6 separate regions of the Homo sapiens genome follow, and regions 1, 3, 4, 5 and 6 are each linked to region 2. Evidence: fine-mapped expression QTL. A gene starts in region 2. Each other region holds a variant in brackets. All regions are shown on one strand. Distances are between the middles of the regions.

What was found.
Region 1: its variant is fine-mapped to the expression of NAIP in whole blood (TOPMed, PIP above 0.99).
Region 3: its variant is fine-mapped to the expression of NAIP in thyroid (GTEx, PIP above 0.99).
Region 4: its variant is fine-mapped to the expression of NAIP in whole blood (TOPMed, PIP above 0.99).
Region 5: its variant is fine-mapped to the expression of NAIP in whole blood (TOPMed, PIP above 0.99).
Region 6: its variant is fine-mapped to the expression of NAIP in whole blood (TOPMed, PIP 0.96).

What each region holds. Positions count from the first base shown.
Region 1 is chr5:71,550,528-71,555,853 of GRCh38, forward strand. BDP1 (BDP1 general transcription factor IIIB subunit) reads left to right here. Exons shown (of 39, transcript NM_018429.3): 35 at 2,589-2,793. Among named protein-coding and RNA genes, the nearest start is that of MCCC2, 34 kb to the right of the region's middle. The variant GGGGAGA/G (reference allele first, on the strand shown) is at 2,307.
Region 2 is chr5:71,023,105-71,028,430 of GRCh38, forward strand. NAIP (NLR family apoptosis inhibitory protein) reads right to left here and starts at 2,235. Exons shown (of 17, transcript NM_004536.3): 1 at 1,511-2,235; 2 at 1,214-1,302. RefSeq lists promoters at 1-2,594, 1,999-2,363 and cis regulatory regions at 1,785-1,998, 2,364-3,828.
Region 3 is chr5:71,141,464-71,146,789 of GRCh38, forward strand. No RefSeq gene overlaps it. Among named protein-coding and RNA genes, the nearest start is that of SNORD13B-2, 55 kb to the left of the region's middle. The variant CCAGCCATTTTTCTCCTGTG/C (reference allele first, on the strand shown) is at 2,688.
Region 4 is chr5:71,366,989-71,372,314 of GRCh38, forward strand. All of the region lies in intron 2 of LINC02197 (long intergenic non-protein coding RNA 2197), which reads right to left. Among named protein-coding and RNA genes, the nearest start is that of LINC02197, 77 kb to the right of the region's middle. The variant T/A (reference allele first, on the strand shown) is at 2,711.
Region 5 is chr5:71,458,832-71,464,157 of GRCh38, forward strand. It overlaps BDP1 (BDP1 general transcription factor IIIB subunit), which reads left to right. Exons shown (of 39, transcript NM_018429.3): 2 at 1-24; 3 at 2,986-3,095; 4 at 5,227-5,286. Among named protein-coding and RNA genes, the nearest start is that of BDP1, 5.8 kb to the left of the region's middle. The variant C/T (reference allele first, on the strand shown) is at 3,288.
Region 6 is chr5:71,481,571-71,486,896 of GRCh38, forward strand. BDP1 (BDP1 general transcription factor IIIB subunit) reads left to right here. Exons shown (of 39, transcript NM_018429.3): 8 at 2,272-2,326; 9 at 4,914-5,057. Among named protein-coding and RNA genes, the nearest start is that of BDP1, 29 kb to the left of the region's middle. RefSeq lists an enhancer at 1,832-2,126. The variant G/C (reference allele first, on the strand shown) is at 2,938.

The sequences.
Region 1 (5,326 bases), 530 kb after region 2:
CTGGCCTCATGCATTCCTCCCACCTTGGCCTCCCAAAGTGCTGAGATTACAGGCATGAGCCACTGTGCCCAGCTGTTCTTGATACTCTTATTTTAATTCTTTATTTTGGAAGTAAGTTATATCTTAACTACCATTAATTAAGATAATTGTCCATCGTGTAGCATTAGAAATTGAAGACTTTAATATTTTTATTTTTGGAGACAGAATCTTGCTCTGTTGCCCAGGTGGAGTGTAGTGGCGTGATCTCAGCTCACTGCAACCTCCACCTCCCGGGTTCAAGTGATTCTCGTGCCTAAGCCTCCCAAGTAGCTGGGACTATAGGTGCGTGCCACCACACTGGCTAATTTTTTGTATTTTTAGTAGAGATGGGGTTTTACCATGTTGACCAGGCTGGTCTCAAACTCCTGGCCTCAGGTAATACACCTGCCTCGGTCTCCCAAAGTGTTGGGATTACAGACGTGAGCCACTGCGCCTGGACTAGAAGGGACATTTTAGGTTAAACGTTTAACTTTACAATTAGGGAAAATACTATTAAATATTCAGATTTATTTTATTATTATTTTTTAGTTGTTTATTTATTTATTTATTTATTTATTTATTTTTAATTGATCATTCTTGGGTGTTTCTCGCAGAGGGGGATTTGGCAGGGTCATAGGACAATAGTGGAGGGAAGGTCAGCAGATAAACAAGTGAACAAAGGTCTCTGGTTTTCCTAGGCAGAGGACCCTGCGGCCTTCCGCTGTTTTTGTGTCCCTGGGTACTTGAGATTAGGGACTGGTGATGACTCTTAACGAGCATACTGCGTTCAAGCATCTGTTTAACAAGCACATCTTGCACCGCCCTTAATCCATTCAACCCTGAGTGGACACAGCACATGTTTCAGAGAGCACAGGGTTGGGGGTAAGGTCACAGATCAACAGGATCCCAAGGCAGAAGAATTTTTCTTAGTACAGAACCAAATGAAAAGTCTCCCATGTCTACTTCTTTCTACACAGACACGGCAACCATCCGATTTCTCAATCTTTTCCTCACCTTTCCCCCTTTCTATTCCACAAAACCGCCACGTCATCATGGCCCATTCTCAATGAGCCGCTGGGCACACCTCCCAGACGGGGTGGTGGCCGGGCAGAGGGGCTCTTCACTTCCCAGCAGGGGCGGCCGGGCAGAGGCGCCCCTCACTTCCCAGCAGGGGCGGCCGGGCAGAGGTGCCCCTCACCTCCCGGACGGGGCGGCTGGCCGGGAGGGGGGCTGACCCCCCCACCTCCCTCCCAGACGGGGTGGCTGGCCGGGCAGAGGGGCTCCCCACTTCCCAGTAGGGGCAGCCAGACAGAGGCGCCCCTCACCTCCCGGACGGGGCAGCTGGCCAGGCGGGGGGCTGACCCCCCCACCTCCCTCCCGGACGGGGCGGCTGGCCGGGCGGGGGGCTGACCCCCCCACCTCCCTCCCGGACGGGGCGGCTGGCCTGGCGAGGGCTGACCCCCACCTCCCTCCCGGACGGGGTGGCTGCCGGGCGGAGACGCTCCTCACTTCCCAGACGGGGTGGCTGCCGGTAGGAGGGGCTCCTCACTTCTCAGACGGGGCGGCTGCCGGGCGGAGGGGCTCCTCACTTCTCAGATGGGGCAGCCGGGCAGAGACGCTCCTCACCTCCCAGACAGGGTCGCGGCCGGGCAGAGGCGCTCCTCACATCCCAGACGGGGCGGCGGGGCAGAGGCGCCCCCCACATCTCAGATGATGGGCGGCCGGGCAGAGACGCTCCTCACTTCCTAGATGGGATGGTGGCCGGGAAGAGGCGCTCCTCACTTCCTAGATGGGATGGCCGCCGGGCAGAGACGCTCCTCACTTTCCAGACTGGGCAGCCAGGCAGAGGGGCTCCTCACATCCCAGACGATGGGCGGCCAGGCAGAGGCTGCAATCTCGGCACTTTGGGAGGCCAAGGCAGGCGGCTGGGAGGTGGAGGCTGTAGCGAGCCGAGATCACGCCACCGCACTCCAGCCTGGGCACCATTGAGCACTGAGTGAACAAGACTCCGTCTGCAATCCCGGCACGTCGGGAGGCCGAGGCCGGCGGATCACTCGCGGTTAGGAGCTGGAGACCAGCCCCGCCAACACAGCGAAACCCCGTCTCCACCAAAAAAATACGAAAACCAGTCAGGTGTGGTGTCGCGCGCCTGCAATCGCAGGCACTCGGCAGGCTGAGGCAGGAGAACCAGGCAGGGAGGCTGCAGTGAGCCGAGATGGCAGCAGTACAGTCCAGCTTCGGCTCGGCATCAGAGGGAGACCGTGGAAAGAGAGGGAGAGGGAGACCAT[GGGGAGA/G]GGGAGAGGGAGAGGGTAATATTCAGATTTAATTCAATACTATGGAATTTAAGTTATAAGCCCTGAAGTATGAATGGAGCTCAAAACTATTAATAGCATTTTTGGGGCCATGGCCGTGTATCTCTTAGTTTGGAGTTTTTTGGTTTTATTGGAATTTTCATTGGAATACCTCAGCCTTTAACTTTATTATTGGAAGGATTTCTAGGATCCTTTAAAAAAAAAAGTGTTAAATAACTTCTAATTCAGTAATTTAGTATGTATTTCTTTTCTATGCAGTATTTGTTTACCAGCAACTTCAGTTGGTCAAGATGCCATGGGTTTATCTATTTCTGGAAGAGATAATTCTAAAAAGCCGCCTGATAATTTGGATCTTGTATCTAGGAAGAGATTTCAATGCAGGCTTGATAAAAATGACCACATTCCTCCTGCCAAAAAACGTTCACTCACTTTAAGAGATGACTGTCAAGAATATACCACTGAGGTAAGTGGTATATTAAGTACCACTCAATATGGCCATTAAGTAAGATGGCCATATTGCAACAGATCTGTTCCTATTTTTTCCTTTATTCTCTTTAAACTTTTAGATATATATAAAGATAGTTCTGACATTTATCATCATAAGTTATTCAAGTAAAACTGGTTTTGGATTATCACTTTTAACCAATGGTAAATGAAAATTGATGGAGAGTAATCAAGAAACTTATTCCCAGCTCTGTATTGGTGGCTAAAAATAAGACCAAAAGCATTATATATGTCTGGATCTTGGCTCTACCACCTAGTAGCTGTAACACCTTAGGCAAGATACTTCACCTCTCTCTCTGATCAGGTTTCCTAATATGTAAAATGATAATACTAGTATCATCATCATCATCATCATGCCTAAAGCTACCCATTGCTTTTAGGAGTAAAACCACAGCCTTTAGTGCCCCACATTGTCTTGCTGATTTTTGTCTCTAGTCTCATTTTGTGCCAGCTTCTGCCTCACTTTCTGGCCACACTGGCCATCTTTCAATTCCTTAAATGTCCCAGGACACTTCATTTGATGTACCTTCTGTGTGAAACATTCCCTTGAAAAACATACAGACTTCTTTAGTTCAGTCATCAGTGCCTCAGGGAAGTCCGGCCAGACCATGCGAATTCAGTCACCAACCACTATGTTGTAGGTTTCCTAGTACCCTCTTGTTTTTATACTCATCTAGTACTCATCATAATTTGTAACTACACTATGGAAAAGTCCTTTTAAAACCCGTGTTCTCAAAGAGAAAGTTAAAGACCAATAGTTCTTGAGTAATAGTTGACAAAGAGCAAGTGTGCTTTTATATATTTGGTGAGTAAAAAAATGGCATATCCCAGAACTGTTTTATTTTCTCTTGTTATGGGTAAGATTGAACATCTTTTCATATGCTTAAGAGCCATGTGTATTTCCTTTTCTATGAACTGACTTTTCCTTTACCCACTTTTCAATTAGATTATTGATCTTTTTCTTAGAGAACTGGAAGAACTCTTATATATGTCTGTGGTAATGAGTTGCAAATCTTTTTTCCCAGTTTGTCATTGTCTCTTGACTCTGCTTTCTTTGTTGTTGTTTTCTCATGCAGAACTTTTGGATTAACTTTTTATATGAACATTTCCAGACATATTAAAAGATAGACTAGGTATAATGTGCCCCCATGTACCAGTCACCCAGTTTCAATAATTTATCAGCATTCCATGCAGACATTATTTTGTTTTGTTTTAAAAATATCTTTAATGACATGGACAAAAGACCATAGTACTTTACTAAGTACAAAACTAGGTCACCAGACTATGATACGCCATTTAAAAAATGGTAGTTATACAGTGGTGTGAATATGTAAGAAAAGTATAATGTCCATTTGGCTTATTTGTGATTTTTATTTTCTAAACTTTGTTTTTAGCATTTTAACAATTTTTTAAAAATTGCTTTTACTAGTTGAGTATCCTTTATTCGAAATGCTTAGGACCGGAAGTGTTTCAAATTTCAGATTTTTTTGAATTTTAGAATAATTGCATTATACTTACATTTGTATTATACTTAACAGTTCCACATCCCAAACCTGAAAAGCCAAAATCTGAAATGCTTCAATGAGCATTTCCTTTGAGTGTCATGTCAGCACTCAAAAAGTTTAGAATTTTGGAGCATTTCGGATTTTCAGCTTTGGGATGCTCAGCCTGTACAAAATTGTAGGATACACATACACTGTATTCAGATAGAAGACATTTTTTATTTTCCATAATCAGATTTATCAGTCTTTTTGTGTATGGCTTCTGGAGATTATGTTATACATTGAAAGTCCTTTGAGACTTAAATTTCCTAGTTAATGTTAATATTACTGATTTGTTGCGAATTTGATTTGGTGTAAGGAATAGGGCCAAGTTAATTTTCCTCATATGACTTTTACCGTTTACTGAATAATTCATCTTATTTCCACTGATAGGAAATTCTGCTTTTATCAGTAAGACAGTAAATCTTCATATTTGTTTGGATATATTCCTAAAACTTCCTTTTCTTTTATGTTGATTCACCTATTTGTTCTGGGGCCAGTATCATCATACTGTTTGAATTTTTGTAGTTTTCTTTATTCTTTTTTTTTTTTTTGAGATGGAGTTTCTCTCCTATTGCCCAGGCTGGAGTGCAATAGCGTGATCTCAGCTCACTGCAACCTCCACCTCCCAGATTCAAGTGATTCTCCTGCCTCAGCCTCCCGAGTAGCTGGGATTACAGGCAGCCGCCACCACGCCCAGCTAATTTTGTAATTTTAGTAGAGACGGGGTTTCTCCATGTTGGTTAGGCTGGTCTCGAACTCCGGACCTCAGATGATCCGCCTGCCTCGGCCTTGCAAAGTGATGGGATATTACAGGTGTGGGCCACCACGCCCGGCCGAATTTTTGTAGCTTTATGATGCACTTTGGTATCTTATAGGGACAGTATCTCTCCCAAACCCATACAATTTTCTTCTTTTTTCAAGTTTCTCCTCATTACTTATATGTTCTCA
Region 2 (5,326 bases):
TCTCTACTCACATTTCTGACATCAAATATATGGGTTTTCCACCAACCAATTCTCCAATTCTCCACAGACAGCAGCTGAGTGTCTTACAATTTTACTCAATTCTGATGCTAATTAACCAGAGTTAGTGCAGACCCCACGGGTTAGGGGCTCAGCCCCCAAGACTGCCCCCTACTTCAGATGCCAGCCACAACTATTAGGACCTCAGGGTACCCACACTTCTGTCTGAGTTCACTACAAATCATGGGTATCTGCAACCCCCTCAGGTTCGATAATTTCTTTCTTGGGGGTTGGGGGAGTTTAGGAGCAGAGGTTTAATAGGCAAAAGAAAGAAAAACGAGAACAGATCTCTCCCTTGTGAGGGGCTTCCGAAAGGAAAATCCGGCCTGCGGTGGACTGCACCAGATTTTATAGGTAGGCCTGAGGAGGCGGCGTCTGATTTGCGCAGAGCCCACAGGTTGGTTTGAACAGGTGTGACGTTTACATAGCACGCGGGGAAGGTTGGGCGCCCCACCCTAATCTTACTATGACAAAGGGCAGAGTGACCTTGACATGCCATGTGCTTTCCAGAGCAAGGGCAGAGAGTGACGCTCACTGTGGTGGGAGAGGAGACCCTCTGTTCCTAGAAAATCACAACAGCATGCCCCTGTGCTATATCCCTGGTTACTACAGCAGTCTTTGTTCTTGCCTAACAAGATTACTTCCCTGAACTGTAAAACTCCCTCAGTACTGCATACAGAGAGAGGTTAGGAGACATGGTGGTCGTGGATAGGAAATGAGGGAATTATGATAGGAAAGTTGGAGGTCCTGTTGCCGACACCCCTTAGGGTGGCCGGAGGCTGGGGTCAGTCCAGAAGCCTTCGGATGGCACCAGGAGGTAGCCCCAGCCAGAAATCCTCAGTTGCTCCAGGACCTCTTCCAGCCCCACACGACAGCTTGGTCCTCCGTGAAAGGAAACTGGTTCAAACATGGCCAATATGCCCAGCAGCCCGTGGGTATTGGGGGGTTCTCCATGTTCTCCCCAGCAAGCCTGTCCCCCAAAACTTGTAAGGCTGGCAGCCACGCTCATAATTTTTAAATGGCTAATTGGTGAAGGCAGAGTTTTCTCATTCACAGAAGCAGAAGGGGGCCCAGTATTTGGTTTGGTTTGATTCTAAAATGGAGGCCAAGAGCCTCGAAATCAAAGGACAGAGTTGAGGTCCGCCCCTTTACTCACCTTTGCAATGAATGCACCTTGGAATCCCAGACGAAGTCCCCAATATGAAGTGGCATTGTTGTCTGGGGTCAATACCCGGGGTTCGTCGTCTCGCACCAACAAGGTTAAGGACACGATACACACGAAGAGTGGGTTTAGGAGCGGAGGTTTAACACGCAAAAGAAAAAGGAGAACAGCTCTCTCCCTTGTGAGAGAGAGCGGCTTCCGAAAGGAAAATCCCAGGTTCGATCGTTTCTTATAATGGCTCACAGAACTCAGAAACTTTACTTATGTTTACTGCTTTATTATAAAGGATACAGATGAACAGGCAGTCGAAGAGGTACACAGGGCAACGTCCAGAAGGGTCCCAGGTGAGCACAGGACCTTTTGTCTTCATGCAGTTTGAGGTGCATCGCCTTCTTGGTATGTGGTTGGGGTTAACCAAACCGAAAGCTCTCCAAACCTGTGGTTTATTTTTTAATGGAGGTGCCATCACTTAGGCATGATTGGTTAAATCACTGGCAACTGGTGGTTAATCAATCTCCAGCCCTTTTACCCTCTCTGGAGGTCGAGGCGTGGGGCTGCAAATCCCAGACCTCTAATCATGCCTTAGTCTTTCAGGGGATAGCCCCCATCCTGAAGTTGTCTAAAGGATCCCAGCCACCAGTTAGCTCACTGTCATACACTCTTATCACTTGGAGATTCCAAAGGTCTTAGAAGCTCTTGTGTCAGGAACCAAGACCAAGTATTCTAATAAAAGATGTTTCTATCACCCCTGTCACTCAGGAAATTACAAGGGTTTCTGGAGATCTGTGCCAGGAACTGGATGAAGATCAAATATATATATTTATTATATCACAATATTGCAGCCTACTACTTGCCAGGCACAATTCTAAGCACTTTACATGTGTCCACTTAATTCCTTTAACAGTCCAAAATCAGCTATTGCTATATCATCTCCATATTACAGATAAGGAAACTCAAGCACATAGGGGTTAAGGTTAACCAGTGATCTGGCTAGTCTGTACTTTTACCTGATGTTGTGCTGCCATACAGACTAGATATATTTTTTTTTTTTTTAGACTGAGTCTTGCTCTGTTGCCAGGCTGGAGTGCAATGGCGTGATCTCAGCTCACTGCAAACCCAGCCTCCTGGGTTCAAGTGATTCTCCTTCCTCAGCCTCCCCAGCAGCTGGGACTACAGGCACATGCCACCTCGCCCAGCTAATTTTTGTATTTTCAGTAGAGACAGGGTTTCACCATGTTGACCAGGATGGTCTCGATCTCTTGACCTCGTGATCCGCCCACTTCGGCCTCACCAAATGCTGGGATTACAGGCGTGAACCACAGCACCCAGCCAAGACTAGATTTTTAAGAAAAGGCAATCCAGATATCCTAGAAGGTTCATTTCCTCTTTTTGGTGGTTTAGCAAATTTCTTAGTAAGGCTTCTAGCTGTTATAGCAGCATTAGTATGTGAACCACAGTTAAGCTCTAGTCCAACAAGGCCATTTCTTCAGCAGAGAAGCAATTGTTAAATAATCGACCAAGTATTCATTGGCTCCCTCTTTTTGTATCAACATACACAATTGTTACAGTGCCAGTGTTTATTGGAACCACTTTCCATGGTGCATCCAGCTGTGCCTAGACCAGCAGGTCTTTTTCCAGAAGTCCAGATGGCAGGGGAACCTCTTCACGTTGTTGACCCTTCTCCCTGTAATTTTTTCCCCAATAAACCTTTTCATTATGTTGCTGTATTTATACCCAAATACACATTACATTTATTTTAGTACCTTGTACATTTTGTTGCCCTTATAAATTGGAGGGGTTTTAAAAACTATTTTTTATTCTCAATATTCATTGATGATGTATAGGACTCCTTCTGGACTGTTTAATATATGACTGTAAATCCCCCTGAATTTTCTTAGATGTTTGTAGTATCTGATTATGACAGTTTTGTCTTTTATTTATTGCCTTGTTGCATTGATTAGGTCCTCTAATATAATGTTGCTTAATAATGAAGATAGATATCCTATCTTATTCTTGACTTTTGGTATAAATTCTTCTAAAGTTTGAGCATTAAACATGATGTTTGATGTAGATTCTTAGTGGATACTCTTTAGCAGTTAAAGTAACTTCTCTTTTACTTCCAGTGACACTACTACCTAATTTGAAGAGAGGATTTGGAATTTTGAGTTTCAAAATAATACTGTTTTCAAACACTTTTTTAGCTAAAAAGTACACACACATAGGGCAGTGTTTTAAAGTTTAGCTACTTCAGGGCATATGTGTATACTCACTGAAGTTTTAATTTAATGGCTTATTGGTCATTCATGTATCTTCTTTGGTAAGGTAATTAAATATTTTTCTTTTTTTTTAAAAGACAGAGTCTCGCTCTGCCGCCCAGGCTGGAGTGCAGTGGCACAATCTCAGCTCACTGCAACCTCCGCCTCCTGGGTTCAAGCGATTCCCCTGCCTCAGCCTCCCGAGTAGCTGGGATTACAGGCGCCCACCACCACGCCCAGCTAATTTTTGTATTTTTAGTAGAGACAGGGTTTCACCATGTTAGCCAGGCTGGTCTCGAACCCCTGACCTCGTGATCCACCCACCTCGGCCTCCCAAAGTGCTGAGATTACAGGTGTGAGCCACTGCACCTGGCCGTAATTAAATTCTTGACCCATTTAAAAATTGCGTGTTTTCCTTTTTATTACTAAATTATAAGGATTCTTTATATATTTTGCATACTAGTCCTTTGTTAGATATTTACATTGCACATATATTCTCTCAGTCTGTTAACCATCTTTTCATTTTCTTAATGGTGTCTTTCAAAAAGAAGTTTTTAATTTTGATGAAGTCCAATTTTAATTTTTGTTATGATTGATAGTTTTTGTGTCCTAAGAAATCACTATCTACTCTAAAGTTGTGAAGATATTCTAAAAGTTAACATTTGTATTGTACAATATCAACTGTTAGTTGAGGATATGGAGCAACTGGAAGCTCATACATTAGTTGTGGGAATGTAAAATGGTATTAATACAATGTCTTTGGAAAAACAGTTCACTGGTGTCATGGAAAGCTAAGTATACTCTTGCCATACAATCTAGCAATTCCATTCCTACATATTTACCCAAGAAAAATGAAAACACATGAACACACAAAGATTTATACAATAATGTTCATAGCAACTTTATTCATAATAATAACCAAAAAATCAGAAACAACCCAATGTCCATTGGGGATAAACACATGGATAAACAACGTATCCATAAATGAAGTACAGGTGGTAAAAAGAAGCAAAGTATTGATATATGCAACAAATGAATAAGCTCAAAAACATTATGCTAAGCAAAAGAAGCCATACATATCATTTAATTTTTAAAAATTGTATATAACAGACAAATCTCATCTACAGTGACAGAAAACAGATCAATGTCACCGGCCGCTGGAACTCCTAGGGAGTACTCACTGCAAAGGAGCCCTTCTGGAGTGATGAAGATGTTCTCTCTCGATTGTGGTGGTCATGGCATGGGTACAGAACACTTGTCAAAAGGCATGGAATTACTCAAGATGGGAGCATTTTTACTGTATGTTAATTATAACTCAATAAAATTGATTTTTTAAAATTCTAAGTACATATATAAATACATTAATGTTTACAGAGCATTAAGAGAAGTGAAAAAGGTCGGGCGCAGTGGCTCACGCCTGTAATCCCAGCACTTTGGGAGGCCGAGGCGGGCGGATCACGAGGTCAGGAGATCGAGACCATCCTGGCTAACACGGTGAAACCCCGTCTCTACTAAAAATACAAAAAAACAATTAGCTGGGCGTGGTGGCGGGCACCTGTAGTCCCAGCTACTCGGGAGGCTGAGGCAGGAGAATGGTGTGAACCCGGGAGGCAGAAATTGCAGTGTGAGCCGAGATCGCGCCACTGCACTCCAGCCTGGGTGACAGAGCGAGACTCTGTCTCAAAAAAAAAAAAAAAACAAAACAAAAGAGAGAAGTGAAAAAATAATTCCATGTTTGAGATTTGTTTTGTTTGTTTGTTTGTTTGTTTTCAGACGGAGTCTTGCTCTGTCACCCAGGCTGGAGTGCAGTGGCGTGATCTCGGCTCACTGAAATTTCTGCCTCCCGGGTTCA
Region 3 (5,326 bases), 120 kb after region 2:
AATCATCCAGTGTGACAACTGCATGTGATTCAAAAAGAGTGAAGAGTATGCTATTACATAAAGGTCTATCCAGGACTTAGAGCAGGAAATCTTTTCATTTTAACCAAATTCACAGTGAAAATAACGTGTGTCCCCTGAGTGAATTGAAAAATAAATTAGCTCTATCATCTCAGGCACAGTAATTCATCATCAGGCCAAATAATTAATTACTCAGGAAGGCTTTGATTTCTATGGGAGCCAAGTGTTCTCCAAATTGTGTAGTACTGTATCTTGCCAAATGTTTTATTTTAGGTGTATGTTCAACAGGTTCAAATATTCATCAATACCTACGTGACAGGCACTATTTTAGGTACTGGAGCTAGAACTTGAGCAAAAAAGACAAAAAGTCCTCCTCTCAGGAAGCTTTTACTCCAAAGGCCTCCTGCAGGGGCAGCAAGCTAAACTCTGTGAGCTAAATTCAACATATCATCTGTTTTTATTGGAACAGTTACACTTATTCATTTCTGTGTTGTCTATGGCTGCTTTCACACCACAATGGAAGAGCTGGCAACAGAGACCATATGGCCTGCAAAGACTAAAATATTTACTATCTGCTCCTTCACAGAAAAGTATGTTGACCCATTACATAGTGGATTGAGTTTGAGAGAGGAGATTAAGGTAAGGCCAACATTTTAAATCGACCTATGAGGAAAAAGTGTTTTTTTTCTCCCTAAAAATTACCTCCTCCAGAAGAAAACAAAACACAAAAAAACATAAAAATAAAAAGAAAGAAAATGGCAAGACCCAAGGTAAAATGAAGGGTAAAAGTGAGCACCACACTAATACATATGTATCAGCGTGAAATCAGATGCTGCCATTTAGTTCCTGCTGAAAGTGTTGGTTTGGCTTTATTAAAATAACTTAAACACAGTCTTTCAATGTTATAGACTCATGGTAAAGGTTTCTTTTTCCTTTTGTGAATTTTTAAAAATTTCTCTGCAAAAATTATTCCTCACACAATTATGTAACTTTATATTTTCGATTAAAACTAAAACTAAAAATGTTGAAAGAACAACTCGATATTGGATTAAAATATTCATTTTCCATCTTCATTCTCAGGATTCATATTTGGTTGCCTCATTGCGATATAAGTATGTTGAAAAAAATGGAAAATTGCTGAAAGCAAAAATTTTAAAACTCACCAGTATTAATAATTATCACCAAATAACTATTACAGAAAACTTCCTCAGAAAGTAAAATTAGAGTGAAGGTATCACAGGTTGGCACTATTTTCATTCCCGACCAAGAAACTGACACCTGAAAATTAAAAAAAAAAAAAATCAGAGTCTACAGTTTTACAAATAATTAACAAAATGAACATCAAAATAGGGTGCAATTTGTTTAATTGGCAAAGGCACACAACGAAAAAGAAATATGTCAATTAAACTGTCAACCATGTTAATTTTGCCTCTGAGAAAAACATTGTAATGGGATAATTTCACGAAATGCTTTGATGACAAGAAAATGCCAAAATATGATTAGCTACTTCAAAATTCAGCTGAAACAAGAAAGCAATTGGTGGCAGCCAGAATAACCAAAGGTCTTTTTTTTAATATACCTTTTTTTTTCCGTCTCTTTTTGCCTGTGTTTAATCAACAGCGTACATTTTGTTTGACAGTGAAATGATTCATAATGAAAACACTGGCATCACAAAAACTTAGCAGAAACTTTGCTATAAGATTAGAGTATACACTTCTATTTTCCCCAAACTCTTTAAAAATATAATTACTATTTCTGAAAGAATTTGTTATCTTTATGAAATAATGTATTTTTCTTACTAGCATTAAGTGCTTATTTAGCTAAAAGCCAGAATTAGAAGCAATTCACTCATATGAGTATGTTTATATTTATATTGTCAAATATATTTACTTAGAATTTAAACCAAGATATATTTTATTTATTGTTCTCATCACTGCCTGTTAGTCAGAATGGATATTTTAAATTTTACCAGGTCATGTAAATTTTACTACCTATATTTCTTATTCCTGTTTGTTTAGAAAAATAATCTAGTCTATACCTAAGCTAACAAATAATCCTAAACATTGAAAATACAAACATGAGTATGAAGAATTCACTTTCTAATAAGTTTCAGCTTTTTACAAATGGCTGCTTAAATATAATGCATAAATATGACGTATTTTTAAAAATACATCTTGTTTATGCATTACTTGAACCATAACTAATCCCCATTTCCAGTCAAAAAGAACACTGTCTACATATGTTAATCTCTAATACAACAAAAGCAGGCTTAGCTTAATGGGAAACTTATTAGAGTAAAATAGTTCTTTTTATTTTTTATTTTATTTTATTATTACAATAAGAAGATTATAATTTGGTAACTAGCAGGAGAAGAAAGACTTCCAAAGATTATTTTATGGGTCCATGTATTTGCTTTTCCTGAGGGTAACTAGTGCTAATTCTAGAAAGGCAGAATGCTGTAGGAAAAACAAAATAAGCCCTGGAGTACAAAAGATTTGGATTCAAACTTTGAAGAAGGATGGGGAAGTGTTTAGGAAAGTGCTTCCCTGTGTAAAACTTAGCTGGTAAGTACCATATTTCACTGAAATTGCTGTTATAATAATTGAAACGGATTATTATTGGAAAAACAACATCAGCAAAACTAAAACCTAGATGAGTTTAAATAAGTG[CCAGCCATTTTTCTCCTGTG/C]GGGATTTAGAGTTGAAGTGGGTATCTTCGATTACTTTTCTTTATCCTCATTCTTATTCTTATAATTTTTCCTAATAAGTCACCTAAGAAGGGCATTTAAATAAGTGCTAGCCTTTTTTCTCCTAGGGGGATTTAGAGTTGAAGTGGATGTCTTCAATTACTTTTCTTCTCTATTCTCGTTCTTATTCTTATAATTTTTCCTAATAAGTCACCTAAGAAGGGGATTCTAGAAACATCTCTTTCCAAGAATACATATTGTTTTAAGAAATATCAGTTACCCCAAATACTTGAATAGAAACTAGGAAAACAGGAGAGGGAGATTATAGGTGTAAACAAGGAATTACTGTGCAGTAATATGTGTAGTGGACGTGAAAAGTAATGACTTAACAGTTTGAATACACAAAGATGGACCAAACAAATACATTTATTTCTCCTTTATTCCAAATTGCCATTGAAATAGGAAAATATAGTACTTATTAAAATAACTATGGAAAGTTGAGAAGAATTCTACCAACAGACTAAAGAGTAAGCAATTTCTGAAGGACATAAGTCATATCAGAGGCACTTTAGTCTTTGGCCATAATAGAATTATTGGAGGGACTTGCCTTTTCACTATAAACAATGATAAAACTGGGCAACATATATGAGGAACCAGATTTTATGCATCAAACAAGAAGTACAAGTTTTTCATACTCAAGAGAGAAGAAAGCTGTGAGGTAAGTACCACATTTAACCAGAGAATGTGACTAGGGGCACTTTTTCTCCCATTAAACAAGGAGGCAGACTCTAAAAATAATGAGTTTAGAGGAAGAAATTAAAGCTTAAAGCTCTCATTTTGTAGGTTGTCTGCTTATTTGTTGATAATTTCTTTTGCTATGCAGAAGCTCTTAGTTTAATTAGGTTCCAAAAAGAGGTAGGGGTAGAGGGACAAGAGCCAAGGAACTTCCTGTTAGGTATTCAGTTCACTACCTGGGTGACAGGATCAGTGGAAGCCCAAACAGTAGCAGCAAGCAATATAACTTTGTAACAAACCTGCACATATACCCCCTGAATCTAAAATTACAATTAAATCTCTATCTATATCATCTCTCTCTCTATCTATCTATCTATCGATATTTGTAAATAGCTTACACTTGCTTAAGTGGTTATTTAAGAGCTGCTGAAGTGGCTGAAATTTGTATAGGAAAGGAAAAAGAGGCATGGGGTAGGCCTACAGAAGCCAGAATAAGTATTTGGCACCAATTTCGTCAAAAGCTGCTCTATACCTGAGCAGGGTTAACATCTGCAAGACCTGCTGAAAGCAGATACTGTGGGAATAAGATATCAGTAGTAACAGGACAAGGAGATGTTTGGGTTACTGACTAGCCACAGGGAAGATATTTTACGGAATATTCCAGGCATTAAGAACAAGGACTATTTCTTTCAGTAAAGACTATGTCCTATCTTTAAGAACAAAAATGAAAGAGATTTTCATTAACAAATAATGAAACCAGGCATGGCAGATCAAAAGGATCTGGAAGCCACTTAACAGCTTTCAAAGGACTATCTTAGGGCCTTTTACAAGAAGACAACGTCTAGATTTTCTACAGTGTATTAGTCAAAAATACAAGTTACGCAAAGAAGCAGGAAAATTTAATAAATAATCAAGGGGAAAAAAGCAGTCAATAGAACATACATCATAATGACCCAGGCATTGAAATCAACAGATATATATTATGAATATGTCCTTAGACTATGGAGATATTGTCACAATGATAGAACGAAAAAGGTAATTTTGAGAAATGAACATTGTTGAAGTAACAAGTGCAAAATATACAATGAAAGAGTCACTGGCAGGGTATACTCTCAGATTTCAGCTATCTGAAAAGCAGACAAATAACCTTGAAAACCATTTTTGAATTTATCTAATCTCAAACAAAAGAGGAAAATGATTAAAATAAGAGATTGAATGACATGGGATATCAAGCCATCAAACCTATACACAAATGAAGTCTCAAAAGGATGAGTCAGAAAATGGGAAAGAAAAAATATATTTGAAGAAATAATTGCCAGTGTTTTCAAATTTTGATGAAAAATTTCAATGCAGAGATCCAAGAACATCGAATCAACAAGAACACATGTATGAAGGGTATAAAGCCAATAGCATAATTAAAATGAAATATTGAAAAATATCCATTTACTCTAAGGAAGGTAACACTGAACCGGTGAAGAAAGAAATATCAACAACCAAGGGAAGAGAACAACACCCAAATAAGAAAATAGTAGGCAAATAGTAACATGGTAGATTTAACAACACTGACATCACTGATTAAATGTAAATGGATTGAACATTTATATTAGTTTCCTAGGGTTATATAACAAAGTACCATAAACTAGGTGCCTCAAGCAACAAAAATGTATTATCTCAAGTCCTGAAGGCTAGAAGTCTGAATTCAAGGTACTGGTTCCTTCTAAAGGCTGTGAAGAAGAATCTGTTCTAGACATCTCTCCGTGGCTTTTAGATGGCTTTCTTCATGTTCATATGTTGTGCTTTCTGGTGGCATTTTTGTGTCCAAATTTCCCCCTTTCATAAGGCCACCAGTCACATTGGATTACAGGCCACTCTAATGATCCCATTTTG
Region 4 (5,326 bases), 340 kb after region 2:
GGTTTTTAACTACCTCATAAAATTTTTACCAGTAAGTTCTACATAAAATAATTCAAAAATCTGATTGTCAGAACCACTGCAATTTCTCTATTATGAATGTATTTACAAGTCATCCTGCATGTAAAAGAAGCAATTTCATGTGGATAAGTAAAATGGTTAAATTTGTTTGTATTCTATACATCTATACATAATTACATGTACATATACATAATTAAACTTATACCCTTGTCGATGATGAAGTGAACGGTTAAAATAAAGTATGCTAGTCTTCACTTAATCATGTTATTTTAATTCAGCATAAAAGATAGATACAGTCATTATCTAACTAGTTAATTTGATTTTTTTTGGTTATTCTTATCCACAAGTAAGGCTTTTAGATAGATCTGAAATGGGATAATGGTGGAAGATGAGGAACTACCACTGATCAAGTAGCCATATTAGCAATGATGCAGTTTGCACAGGGAAAACAAGAAGGAATAAATAAGCAAATGGGAGAAGAATTACAGAGAACAGTATCCAAGATGCTTCAGTTCAGATAATATTTTGTTTCATTATGAGAGCCTGCACTTAATTTTCCACCAGTTTACCAAGCTAGCGTGACCATCATGACCTTGTACCATCTTCAGATTCCACGAATGGTAGATGAAGAGTTCTACCCATCACTTCTAATAGGCAAAGATAGCACATGCCTACATGCACTGATTTGGAAGAAGGACAAGGCTAGAGATGGTGAGCGTTCCGCTTGAGCTATGGGCTATTAGCTTGTGGTAAACATGACTTAATAGTCAGTGATATGGACTTCACTGGCAGGTCTCATTCAGATAATCCCACAGTTCTTCTACTTCTTAATATAATATTTTCTAGGATAGGGGGTGGGGTGTAGTTGGGGGATCCATCAGGTGAGTTGAGAAGAGGAATGTGATAGGAACTTTTGTCACTGTTGGAAAGTGCGTGGGTGGTGACATTGAATAGATTCACTCAGGGAGACAAGTTAGCATATCTTTCATCTTTTTATAAGCAGCTGAGTAGAAAGAAATTGAGCAGCAGGAAAGGAGGGACAGGATACAAGAAAGTGTCTTTTCTTCCTCTCCATTCTTACAATGTCCTGATTCTTCAGCCCAGAGCTTTAAATATTTTTGTAACTACTTTCTTGGGGAACTGTCATGTTAACAGTAATTTTGTATATATTGAGCTCCTAAAGCTATGGATGCTTTATAAAGCTACAATGTAAATTTATTTCTCTCCATAATCCCTGTCACTTTCCCTGTCTCCACATAAAAAGCAAGAGACTTAACATTTCATTATTAATTACAGCAACAGCAAGTTGGCTGTCAGAGTCAAACCTCCACACACTCCCCCCACCAAGCTGCTGAGCTTCCAGCCATTTACTCATTAAGCTTATGATGATGATGGAGTTTTTAAAACCTGCTCTTTGTAATGGACAGTAGACCTTAAAAATCTGTCATAAATTGCTCAACTGAGGAAATCAAATGGCAAAGAGAGTGAACCAGTGTAAGAGCAAACAAATTGCACCATAAAAGAAAGTAGTGTCTTTAACTGAGCTTTTATTTTTACAAAGAATGTGAAAGCAACTTGGAGACTGTAAGTGGATGCTGTGAGACTGTTTAACTAAGAGCAGTTATTCACATTAAAGAGGCTGAACACATAAGGAAAAAAAAAAAAGAAAGAAAATCAGACCAAACAAAAACAAAGGAACAAAACCGCCTTAGAGTGTTTTCGTTTTTCAAATGATATGGTACTGCTGAGTAAAAATGACTAGGTCCATTTTTAAGTGTATTTTTTTCCTTAACATTTTAAAACCAGACTACATAAGATAAAAGCATATTACAAGGTGAATACCGATCAAGTTAAGGATCTAAGCGTATAACAGATTTTTCTCTCATATTTCATAAGAGATTTTTCAAAATGCACATTAATTCTGATATTTTTATTCATTTATTCAGGAAATATTAATGAGGACTGTTGAAGTCAAAATAGAAATGTAAAGAGGAATCTCTAAATTTAACATTTAATTAAGAAATAAATAATTTGCAAATCAGGGCATATATTCAGACCGAGTGGTCTTCAGCATGTCTGAAGAATGAAGAGAAGGCTGGAGGTTTTACTAAAAAAAGAAATATTAATTATTGCTCTTTGAGAAAGTTCATTAGCATTGGTAAGGTTCTGGGAAGCTGGAACGTCTGACTGGTGACTGATGGTGGGTAAAGTAAATCTTAGATTTGTAGCAGGTTTGTTTGGCAACTATTAGATAAAACAGTTGTGAGGTTACAGCAGGCACTTTCAGCAGCCAGACTTGCAGTGAATTACATTTTGGGAGAGCAATGTTTTGTGTCCTGAGTGCTTTTTGCCCCTGCCCTCTTGACTCTGTTTTCACTGGGTATGACGAGAATGCCCCAATTCAAATAATCAGCTTTCACAGTACCTATTATGGTCCAGTTCTTTTCTCAAACACTTTGGAATTCAAGAATAAACTAAACAGAAGAAAATCTGACCCTGAAGAAGAAAGTAACAAATAAGTCATAAGTATAATGGATAGGTAAGTTATATTGCAGATTTGAAAGAAATATGTGATGAAAAATAAGAGAAGTAGAGCAGGAAAAAAGAAATTAAGATGGTAGGTGTGGTGGAAGGAGAGGAGGCAAATGCAGGCTCAACCAGAAGGTAAGAAGTCAACAAACATTTTGGAAGG[T/A]AGGAGTTGTCAATATGGACAACATGGACATCTGGGGGAAGAGTTCCATGTGGAGTGAGGTTACCCTAAATAATTGAACTCGCTGGAAAAAAACACAACTCTCAATTTTACTACATAGAAGCTCTTGTAAATGAGAGCAGATGAGCTGTTACTTGTGTTGTGTCCCCAAATGAAACAGCTCATTCTAACATGGGGTAGTGTGCATCAAAGACAAATCATGCCATCTCACAATAAGTATACCCACCAAGAACCTTTTGGAGACCTATATTTGGCACTAAAAATACCATTATGAAGAAGAACTTGTATGCCTAATTGCACCCATGCTTTGGTCAATCCTCAATTATATATACATTATAATCAACCACATACAAAAGTCTAATATGTGCATTTACCCTGTGATTCTGTTTTATTCATATTAATAGAAGCATGTTTCTACCACTGTGGTGTCATATTATTCAATTATTTTGAGTTTTAAATCCCAGGGACCGACTTTACCTGAGTATTGTAGCTCTAAAGTTGGAAAGAAAAAATAATGCTGATACCATAATCAGATAGACATAAACAAAAGTGGGAAGAAATCTGCTATTGTGATGAAGCCTATATCATTTAACACCTGAAACTTTGACCAAGCAGAATAAATGAATGAATAAATAATTAAATAAATTAATAAAATGATTCTGGAATTGTAAGCAAGGGAAGATGAAATGATCAGTAGCAAATAACCAAACATGAGCTGACATCATGAAGAAAATAGCAAATTCATGAATTATTCTAAAATCGAAGCATTTGTTAGTCTTAAGTGTGAATATCTCTCTATGAAATTCTTTAATCTGGCCTTACAGTATGATTTACAAAGCACAGTTTCTATTTCTAAGAGCCTCTTACAACTCAAAACTTGCCTTACAAATTTTCTTAGAAGTAATCTTGACAGCAAACACATATTGTTTGAACTTTGTTTTTCATATTTTGTACATTAATTGCCATTCACGTTTTAGTAGTAAATTCTACGTGGTCCCAGGTGTGTGACTGTGCATGCAAGTTATATCAGAACAGGCCTTCCCAGCTTTGTCTTATCGTTATAATATGCAAACTATTGGCATAATTCTACATCTCCCTAAAGATTTTTTGAGTCTTTTGGGATTGATGGTCTCTCTCCCTCTCTCTGGATGCTGCTTTAGGACACTTACTAAGTATACTACTGTGTCTTTCTCAGTGATTAATGATGACTAGATTAATTGGCTTTCTCTTTCATTGTAAGTTCCCCTTTAACATTTCTGATTTTAATTGTGAGAAATAACCCTGCGCATGCATGTATTAGAAGTCAGGGAAGATCCTCTTGATCCATCCCATCAATTTCCCAGGAGCAATTGGCATAATTTAAATCTTCATCTAACTATTCTCCTTCAATTGTAATTGGTGCCACCTATTTTTAAAGTAGCCTATTCTTGTAACATTAACGTTATTTTGATAATTTATTGCGACCCCATTGCCAAAAACAGGCACAAGGGCGCCATAAATAAAGCAGTCTGATAATTGCTTAAACAAAACTGGGCCCCATGGACCAGCAATAAACTGTCATTAAGGTTAGGCTGGAGAAGCACCTGCAATTTCTCTGGATAACCTCTTTTATTTCTCTGTGTACACTACTGCTCATTTCAGAAAATGACAGTTTTGAAAGAGATCAGCAATTTGTTGAAACAAAGAATGAGAAAAACATGGTCTTGGAGGTATAATTTACTTTTACATTTTGAATTAAAAAATAGAAAAAGATATGTTGAAAAAAATTATCATATGAAAACCATAAGATTTCTACTGTAGAGCTAGAGCTATTTCACAGTTTAAAAGCTTGCTCCCTTTGTGGTAACTTTTATTTGTTATTTAAATTCAAGTTAATCTTCCCTGACTTGTAGTACTAAAAAATAGTACTCATGGTCTTTTATTGTTTTCATGCACAATTTAGATAATGTATTTTAGTGTTGCAGCTTGGCTCAGCAATTTTAAAGATTTAGGTTCTGAAAGTTGTTCATCAATAAAGTGGCCTATGTACCTCATTTGCAATGTGAAAGTGTTAGAAATATGAAAGAATTATATTTATTTTATAATACAAAATATAGAAAGATTAAAACTATATTTAAAACCAATTCAGAACACACAAGTAGGTATCACTTAAATGTCTTTTTCAATGTCGGTGACATTTTTAGTTGCTTTTCTTTCTTAAAATTTGCTCCCAAAGTGGCCATAATAATTGATATTTTATAAAGTTGGGGAAAAAAACAAAATGAATGTCTTCCTTTTATATTTATCAGAAGGTTATTTAAATGAATTCTTCTTGAATTTGATGGAAGCATTTTTTAAATTATGTTAATTTTAACACATCAGATGCATGTTTGAATACAAATAAGATCAAATAGGTCTTGAGTCATATCTGCAGGATCTTAATTTTAACATCATAGAGACAAAGATTTTAGTTAATCTTTTGTTTTGCTGTCAAATTTCCCTCTAATTTTGGACATGACACATTTTATCTTATTGAGTTTCAATTATATATGTATAATTATATATATAATTGAATATATATGTGTACATATATACGTAGATATATATATATATGTTGGA
Region 5 (5,326 bases), 440 kb after region 2:
AAAGAAGAATTGAGAAAAGAGAAGGTAAGGGAGGAGAATCAGGATTTTGATGTTGCCTTCTATTTATGTTAGTAAGGAATCATTGGGAAGAAAAGCATTTGTAGCATTTTGATGGGGGAACAAAACCACATAACATCCCTTAGTCAATAGAACATCCCTTCTTGTTAATGGATTGATTGATACACCGTGGACTTAAATTACATTTTTCACTGATAGTAATTTTTACATTATTTATTTATGTTTTCACTGTTTTTGGTGAAGACCACAAATAAGTTTCATACGCATACACATAGATGCACATACACAAACATATTTATAAAATAAACCTTCAGTCTGATTTTTCACATAAAGATGTCCAAGTGATAAGTGATATATTTATTTGAATTAAGACAAGTATAGGCCGGGCGTGGTGGCTCATGCCTGTAATCCCAGCACTTTGGGAGGACTAGGGGGGCAGATCACTTGAGGTCAGGAGTTCAAGACCAGCCTGGCCAACATGGCAAAACCCTGTCTCTACTAAAAATACAAAAATTAGCTGGGCCTGGTGACGTGCATCTGTAATCCCAACTACTGGGGAGGCTGAGGCATGAGAATTGCTTGAACCTGGGAGGTGGAAGTTGCAGTGAGCCGAGATTGTGCCTCTGCATTCCAGCCTGGGTGATAGAGTGAAACTGTCTCCAAAAAAAAGACGAATATAGTTGAGCAGAATGAATTGGTAATGTTTTCTAAATTGACTATGGAAAATTACAAGTGGGAAAAATTTGTGTTATGCATATATTAGAGTCCATGTTCTTTTTAATCTTGAGGATTGATTTCTTTTCTAGAAGGGCAGGTAACAGCAGTAGAGCATGCTGGCCCTGGAGTTAAATACTTAGGGATTGAATCTCAGCTTCATTTCTTTACTAGCTTTGTGACCTTGGGTAATTTAATTAATCTATTTCCTCATCTGTAAAATAGACCAATAATAGTTCAGGTTGAGCATCCCTGAAATTGAAAATGCTCCAAAGTCTAAAATGTTTTGAGTGCCAAAGTGATGCTCCAGGGAAATGCTCATTGGAGCATATTGGATTTCAAATTTTCAGGTTAGAGATGCTCAGCCAGCATGTATTCTGCAAGTATTCAAAAATGTGAAAAAATCCAAAATGTGAATCATTTCTGGTCTCAAGTATTTCAGATAAGAGATGCTCAACCTCTATCTAGCTCATTAGAGGGTTGTGAAGATTAAATGAGTCAATACATGTAAAACACACTTAAACTGGTGTCTTGGGCCTTGTGCAGTGGCTCACGCCTGTAATCCCAGCACTTTGGGAGGCCGAGGTGGGCGGATCACCTGAGGTCAGGAGTTCGAGACCAGCCTGGCCAACATGGTGAAACCCCGTCTCTACTAAAAATACAAACATTATCTGGTTGTGGTGGTGCACGCCTGTAATCCCAGCTACTCAGGAGGCTGAGACAGGAGAATCGCTTGAACCTGGGAGGCAGAGGTTGCGGTGAGCCAAAATCGTGCCATTGCACTCCAGCATGAGTGACAGAGCGAGACTCCGTCTCAAAAAAAACCAACCAAACAAAAAAACTAGTGTCATGAAAATAGTAAGTGTCCAACCAGTGTCAGCTTCTGTTATGAATTATAAAATGCCTCTTAGTTTTTTTTAAATTAAGGGAAGGCATTTTGCTTGGTGCTTTATATCTGTTATCTTATGTAATTATATCAACTATGTGAAGTAGATATCACTGTTTCACACAGGAGAAAACAAGCTTTCAATTTATGTCTTCTAAAATGTAAGCCTCACAACAATTGCTTGAACCTGGAAGGCGGAGGTTGCAGTGAGCTGAAATTGTGCTACTGCATTCCAGCCTGGGCGACAGATCAAAGCCTCTAAAAATGTTTTATGGGTTGGGAATTGGGGGTGGGGGGATTAAAAAAAAGTTCTGTATTTTACAGAAACTGCTTATTTGCTTATTTAATTTATTTTGGGGAATTAAAGATTAAACATTTGCTTCAAGAATTTTACAAAATACACAGAATTTCAAGTCACTACAGGGTAAAAAAAAAGCTGTGTAAGCATAAATTCTCAGTGAGCTATTAAGATGTTTAGTTAGAAGGCATCAGTAAGCATTTTATACATTGAGCTTTATTAGTTTTATTCTTTGGTTATTTATTTAGTTTTGAGACAAGGTCTCACTGTCACCCAGGATGGAGTGCGCTAGTATAATTGCAGTTCACTGCAGCCTCAACCTCCCAGGCTCAAGTGATCCTCCCACCTCAGCCTCCCAAGTAGCTGTGGCTATAGGCATATGCCACCACATCCAGCTAATTTTTTTGTATTTTTTTGTAGAGATAGGGTCTCATTTATGTTGCCCAGGCTGGTAACTCCTGAGCTCAAGCGATCCTCCTGCCTCAGCCTCCCAAAGTGCTGGGATTAGAGAAATAAGCCACTGTGCCTGGCCACATTGAGCTTTTATCTAGTCCTAGTCACTTTAATTGTTAAAATCTAAATACTGCCTGGGTGTGTGGTTCACTCCAGTGCTTTAGGAGTGTGAGGCAGGAGGATCACTTGAGCCCAGGAATTTGAGAGCAGCCTTGGCAACGTAGGGAGACTCCATCTCTACCAAAAAAAAAAAAACCCCACAAAATTAGCCAGGTGTTAGGCAAGCATCTGTAGTCCCAGCTACTTGGGAGGCTGAGGTGGGAGGACTGCTTGAGCTCAGGAGTTCAAGGCTGCAGTGAGCTATGATTGCGCCACTGCACTTTAGCCTGGATGACAGAGCAAAACCCCATCTCAAAAGTAGATAAATAAAAACTAAAAGCTATTGAGGGTAATGTGCTACAACTTTTTAATATTCCATCTACAAAATTACATAATTGGGGTGAGAATAATATTAAAGCACTTACAGTGAACGCAACAGTGGACTGTATATTTGCATATAGTACATCTGAAATTCTTTAATATTTATAAAAGTGGATCTGTGTGTTTATGTATACAGAAACAATGGAAAAACAAATATGCTATAAATGAAAGTCAGAGGCCACCAGATCGTTCAAAAATGACTATGAGAGACTTCATATATTATCTACCAGATAATAATCCAATGACGTAAGTAAAATTTATTTCTGCTTTACTATCTCTTTTTTTTTTTTTTTTTTTTTGGAGGTGGAGTCTCGCTCTGTCACCCGGGCTGGAGTGCAGTGGTGCAATCTTGGCTCACTGCAACCTCTGCCTCCCAGGTTCAAGCGATTCTCCTGCCTCAGATTCGCGGGTAGCTGGGATTACAGATGCTCGCCACCA[C/T]ACCCGGCTAATTTTTGTATTTTTAGTAGAGACTGGGTTTCGCCATGTTGGCTTGCCTGGTTTTAAACTCCTTACCTCGGGTGATCCACCCGCTTCGGCTTTCCAAAGTGCTGAGATTACAGGCGTGAGCCACTGCACCTGGCCTTCTGTTTTACTTTATTTGGGTATGTAGTTATATAAATAGCACTTTTATAGTAAATTTTTTAGTTTTCCAAAAACATGTTGACAAAATTTGGAACACATATGTCCTTTTAAATAGAATTTCATAACAAAAAGTAGCAGTATTTCAAGTAACTGCTTTCTGGGGATGGTAGATTATGCCCTTTATTTCTGAGATTAAAAATAAATTTCCTGGCTGGGCACAGTGGCTCATGCCTGTAATCCCAGCACTTTAGGAGACCAAGGTGTGTGGGCCGCCTGAGTCCAGGAGTTTGAGACCAGCCCGGGCAACATGGTGAAACCCTGTCTCTACAAAAAGTACAAAAATTAGCCAGGCATGGTGGCATGTGCCTGTAGTTCCAGCTATTTGGGAGGCTGAGGCAGGAGGACTGCTTGAACCCTGGCATTTGAGGCTGCAGTGAACCATGTTCATGCCACTGCATTCTGGGTGCACTCAGGGTGACAGAGCGAGATCCTGTCTCAAAAAAAAAAATGTTTTTTCTTTGTTATATTAGTTACCAAGGCATAGTGAAACCAACTAAGCCACTTTTCTGTAATCAAGATTGCAATTTTGGCCAGGCGAGGTGGCTCATCCCTGTAATCACAGCATTTTAGGAGGCCAAGGCGAGAGAATTGCTTGAGCCCAGGAGTTTGAGACCAGCCTGGGCAATGTAGTGAGACCCCATCTCTACAAAAAATACAAAAATTACCTGGGCATTGTGGCGCACAGGAGGCTGAGGTGGGAGGATCACTTGAGCCTGGGAGTTCAAGGCAGCAGTGAGCCAAGATTGCACCACTGCACTCCAGCCTGGGAGACAGCGAGACTCTGTCTCATTTAAAAAAAAAATGTTTGAAAGGATTGGAATTTCTATTTTTAACATACTATAAACTGATCTAAAGGAGTGATCCAAGTTTTATGCCCTGCCTTCTAATAAAGACAGTAGTAGTGTGATTAATAAATCCTCCAAGAACAAAGCTTCTTTATTAAAGTTAGCCTGGGGTTTCTGAGGCAGGTTTATAATAAATCTCATTGTTGTATTGTTGATGGTTTAGCAGGTAGAGGTAGGAGTTGGGACAGTTCCTCAGCATAGCCCTTTTTCAGATTCACCAGGTCTTTGGCCCTGTTGAAGAAAGGGCCAGAAACCTAGGTTTTGAGTTGTTTAACATCCAGGAGTTGGAGACAAGTCACCTAAGTAAGCTGCTTCATGCCTTGGGATTGGGAGCCTCCTTTCACTGAGAAGTTAGAGGATAAGAACATTCTCTGTTGGGCGTGGTGGCTCATGCCTGTAATCTCAGTGTTTTGGGAAGCTAAGGTGGGAGGATTGCATGATCCCAGGAGTTTGAGACCAGCCTGGGCGATATGGTGAGACCTCGTCTCTACAAAAAATTAAAAGACAAAAATTAGCCTGGTGTGGTGGCATGCACCTGTAGTCCCAGCTACGTGGGAGGCTGAGGTGGGAGGATTGCTTGAGCTCAAGAAGTAGAGGTTACATGGAGCTGAGATCACAGCACTGCACTTCAGTCTGACACAGCAAGACCCTGTTGTTGTATTAAAAAAAAAAAAAAAAAGTATTCTTTACTTAGGACCTAACAAATTATTTGTATGTGATGACAAGCTTTTGACTGAAAAGTTGATTGTTGGATTGTACTGTCATTAACGAAATGCTGTGATATATCATTAAAAATTAGAAGTTAGAATAATTTTCTTCTTGCCTACAGATAGAATTGGGAAGATATAAATTAATAATTTATTAAAGATATTGTTATTTATGTTCAATAGTTCTTCACTGGAACAAGAAAAGAAAACTGAAAAGCCATCGACTCCAGTCCAGACAAGAGAGTAAGTATTTTATTTTTGAATATATTCTATTCCTACATTT
Region 6 (5,326 bases), 460 kb after region 2:
TAAAAAATAGTGTTGACTTTTGTTCTGGAAAACTGTTAATGTACTGCCAACTTCTTTGTTCCTGTTAAGGCTTGTCTTAAAGCTTTGTTGAGGCAGATCTAGACTGGTCTTTAATCTAGGACATCCTTTCTCCAATGGGATTTCTCATCTGATTTACAGAAAATAATTTGAATTACTATTATATTTTATTATTTTCTTCTTTTCCCAGAACAGTCTCATGGTAGGCATGAGTTATTATTTTCTAAGTTCTCTAAGGATGGTTATACTAATACTATACTATTAATAGATAAGTGAGAGAAGGGAATGCATTGCATACAGTGGCTGCTTTAATGCATTAGTACTTAATTCTCATGCTACATCCCTGGTAGAGAAAGGCTACTCTAGGGTATCGTTTTTATCTCTAATGGTGATCTTTCTGGTGTCTGAGGTGAATGTATTTGGGTATTAATGAGGTCTTTCCATTAGGATGCACCTGAACTCTATTGTCATATGGTGTTTTATGACTTTTAGCATCTTCCTTCTGCCTTCATGGCTTTAGCAGCTGTTCTCTTTTAAGCCTTATATTCTGGACATATGCAACCCATACTTAGGCCAAGGTATCATGGGGTATTTCCACCAGGCCTGTGAGGTACCCCTCTACACAGTTCCTTTTTAGAACTATGCTCCTAAAGATTCCCTACCTCTGCAGCCTAGTTGGATTGCTGTACCCTGTTTGGCCTTCACCTCCCTTTCCTTGGTTAGGAAATTGAGCCCAGGCAGAGAGCCAAGGTAAACATGGGCACATCTTGTCTGTTTTCCTTCTCTCCGTGATTGTAGTCTTGCTCTCACTATTGTCCTTTGCTTGAAAATAATTGATGCATATATTTTGTCAGTGTTAAAAGTCATTCGTGGTGGAGTTGGATATGTAGGACCTGTCCATAATGAGTTACTTTGCCAAGGCCAGAAGTGGAAATTATGGGATTTATTTTGTGATCATGGAATTTGGCCTGTTACTGGTTCTTACCTATGAAATCATTGACTAGTTTCAATATATTTCTTTGAGAAAGTTTTAAATTGTTCTGAATTATATTACCAATTAAGTAAAATATGAGGTAGCACTGTTTTAGAATTAAATGCCTGAAGCCTATTGATATTTCTTTTAGGACATTTAATTTAGTGTTTATAGCCAATCATTTTTTGTGGAGGTAACATTTGTTAACTTTTGAGGAAATGTTTAAATAACAGTATGATCTTTTAAGGCAGAAATAAGATTATCTTTGAAAACTTCTGTATTGATAATAAGTTTTGTGAAGAAAAACAAAAGAATGGGAAAGAAGGGCAACCTGTACATTAAAAGATGTTAATGTCATATCAGGTTTTAAAAATATGGGCAAGGCTAAACTGTATCATCTAAGAATACACACTTGGGTCATAAACAATAAGGAAATACAAGAAAGTGATTGCTTTACAAGTCATATTAGTGGTTAAGTTCTTTTGAAGGGAGGAAGGGGGCATGAAGTACTTCCTTTGTTTTATGTGATATTCTCTCTCTCTTTTTTGCAATTAAAAAGCTTTATTTTTGTGCTTTTAATAAAAACTTGTAGATCACTGACGTGTAGATGGGAAACATTGGCTGTTTGTTTCCTCTCCTACGATGTGTTTGCGTGATCAGACGTCTTCAGACACAAACTTATGCCCTCAGTCTTCCTAATGACTTTAGGATGGATTGAGCCTTAAGCCTTAAACATCTCCCTCTTAATGGAAGTAATCTGGTAGTAAACTGAGGACAGGGATTTTTGGGGCTGAGAAAAATGTGAGGAAATGTGCCTTAATATATAGAAGTTTGTCAGGATAAACTTGGCCTGCTTCAAAATTTCACTTAGTTGTTTCTCTATAGTCTTCTCTCCATGCTACTTGAAATATATTAGAACAATGATGTCAGAGGTTTAACCTGTTACGAATACTTAATTTTTTAAAAGTTAATACCAGTGAGCTTAGTCATAGGTTTGATCTGCTTTCATGTTTGTTGACTTTATTTTTTTCTGTCCTCTGTAAATCCAGCTTCCATTGCTGATTCATGCTATTGGTAATGAGAATCAAGAAGCTCAGTAAAAATCTTTCATCCTTATTTTTAAAAAGCCGAAGGTTTAAGTAACTTGCCTATTGGCAAAGACATATTAAGTAGAGAGCAGTATGTTATTCCTAAGAGTTTCATTTTAATGCTTACTGCATTTAAAAAAAAATGCTTGTTTTATGAGAGAAAATTACCATAGGGTTTTTTGTTGTTAACAGAATAAATTTAAACGGGAAGAGAAAACAAATGGATGGAGAATAGACAAAGCATTCCGTAAGTATTAAGACCTCTTTTACAAAGTATTACTTGAAGAGCCTAAAAAATGACCAGTCTTTTGTCTTTGGCTTTAGTGTGTTTTAGATTTGTTTTGTTCCTGTATTGGCATTAAGAGGAAGCAGTCTGAAATTTTTCTGTTTAGCAGTATGGGTCTGGCACTTGCTACAAATATATTGGCAGGAGATTATCCAGAACATCTAGGTGCAGGTAAACAGTTCTAAGTCCAAGAAGTTATGGAGGGATTGATGCTACCACTTCTAAGTGTTATTTATTCTGAAGGAACTGTATGGGAGGAGATCATTGTTTCTGGAAGACAGTACTATTAGTTATATAGATGGTTCTTTCTGGTTCTGAATGACTAATCAGTCATTCAGTCAATAACACTGACCACCTACTATATGGTAGTCATTGTTCTAGGTATTGAGCATGTAATGGTGGAAGATAAATGGCAGATGAGAATCCTGCATTTAGAACCTTAAGTCTGATTGGATGGCGGAAGAAATATAGTTGATAAGCATAATTTTAGGTAGTGATTCATTTCCAAAAAGAAGAAAAAAGAGAGGGTGGATGTTTAGGTCTCTTTTTTCCTAATGATCATTGGATCATTA[G/C]GGAAGTTCTGTCTGAAGAGATACACTAGCATTTGAATTTAGATCTCATCTGAAGGAATGATAGATATCTTGCAATTTCTAACTAAAATCCTCATTAAAATTAACATATTTTTCTTCAAGTCTAGAGAAAGATATCAAAGGATCTATAAAGAAAAATACATTTACTGTTAAAAATAGTTCTTGTATTTTTTGATTACAAGATAGGTCTTTTTTTCACCACAGCTGTGGACAGGAATATATTTTTTGTGGATTTACAATTATCAGTATTTTATGATTAATAAATGTATTCAATGTCCATTTAGTCGTAAGATTAGCCATAGTGCTAATTTTAGAAAAAAAAAATCCAAATGTAGAGAGTACCTACATTATGTAGCATGTATATTTATTTTATGAGTAGACACTAAGGTAGGTGGGTGGATCCTACACCCAGTGTTTTATCGGGTCTTTAGGGAAACTGCTTTGAGGAATGGCTCTTAGAAGATCTGGAATATTGTGCTCCTCAGCCCATTCCATATTAGAGAAGTGGTCCTGAAACTTCATTAAGTGTAACACATTATAGTCAGAAAATAATTCGTAAATCTATAAACAGTCTATTTGGATTGTGAAGCATTTTTATAGACTATTATAATAGATATTTTTAAAATTTATTGATCTTAAACAGGATACAGTGTTGTATGCCTATAGGCCCAGCTACTCTCAGGAGTCGCTGAGGCAGGAGGATCTTTTCAGCCGAAGAATTCGAGGCCAGCCTGGGCAACACAGCAAGATCCTATCTCAAAACTAGAAACAACTCATTGATTTGGAGGCTTTCTATTGGAAATTTTTTTTTTAAATTAAAACCTATATAAGTTTTTTGAGAGAACTTATGTTTTGAATTTCTCTGAGAACCATGTGGAGATCCTTTATGATTCTTTGAGTGCTATGTCTTTCAGAATCATTGTGGAGAGTCAGAACAAATGAAGTCTGGGTCAACAGTGAAATAGGGTCTTCAGGAATCCCAGATTTGGGTTTAGTTTCCAGAGATTCTTTTTATTTTAGTATATACCTTCTTTTCTGAGGCTATCTTGTAATCAAACCAGTCTTTGGCTTATGTGCATAGAGCACCATTTTCTCTACATTGACTTTAAGTTCAAGCAAGGATTTGCCTCCTGGTCTGGATTCATTCCTGGAGTGTTCACTGATTACTTTCAGATATAATGCTGTTGATAGGTATTTAGTGGGCATGTTCCTGATTAAATTCATTTACTTCCCACTTTGCTGATACTTATAAGAGTAAATGGTGAAATGGTTGTGATAAAGGTAGGGCATATGGTGGTGAACAGGCATTTCAAGGACTTCTCAGTCCATAAAAAAATTGATTTATATTTATACACAGCTCAAAGTGTAGTTCAAGTTTTGACAAAGAATATGCCTGTGTAATCACTACCCCAAACAATAGAGGAAATGTTTTCATCACTTCACAAGGTCTATTATGTCCCTTTCTGAACAATCAAATGCTGTCCTCCTGGCCCAAGGCAACCACTATTTTCATTTTAATCACCATAGATAGCTTAGTGTGTTCTAGAATATCTTATACATGGTATCATATAGTATGTACCCTAGTATCTGTTTTCTTCCACTCAGTATGTTTTTGAGATTCCCTCATATTATTGCATGTATCAGTAGTTTGTTCCTTTTGTTTTGTTTAAAACTAGTTTATTTGCAATAAACAAATTATTACAAATTTGTAATAAATTATTATTTGTAATAAACTAGTTTATTTGTTTCGTTGCTGAGTGGTGTTCTGATGTGAACTAATCTATTTCCCTGCTAAGACCAACCTATTCTGTTGCTGAGTGGTGTTCTGTTGTGTATTTGTTTTTCTGTTCTCCTACTGATAAACAAACCCATTTGCTTTTGATGTTATGATACTTTAAAAGCTAGAAGTAGCTTTTAAAAATAAAAACTTGAAAGTTCTTTTCCTTTTCTTTAAACAGAGGAAAAGCGCCCTTTTGACTTCGATTTTTTTGCTCATTTGCTTCAGAAAGTTCTTGCTGAAGAAGAGAAAAGAAAACAAAAATCTGTTAAAAATCACAGTTTAAAGGAGAAGAAATCCACCAAACCACGGAAAAATGTAAAAGGTATTGATTTTAAAAGGAAGTGTGATAGTTTACTTAGTAGTAATAAACTTGCAATATTGTCCCTCAGGCCTTTGAGAGTTCATGTGTAGCTCAGGTAGTTAAGATCATCAAAGCATCCAGTTGGAGGGAGTATATGTTTTTTCAATCAACTAGTTATCTGGTCCAAAACAATAGCTTTCTTTTAAAATTTTTAACTGGCGTGATTGGGTTATTTGATATCTCTCTAGCATAGAGGATAGTTGTAGCCAGTCAAAGAGCATCAGAATTTG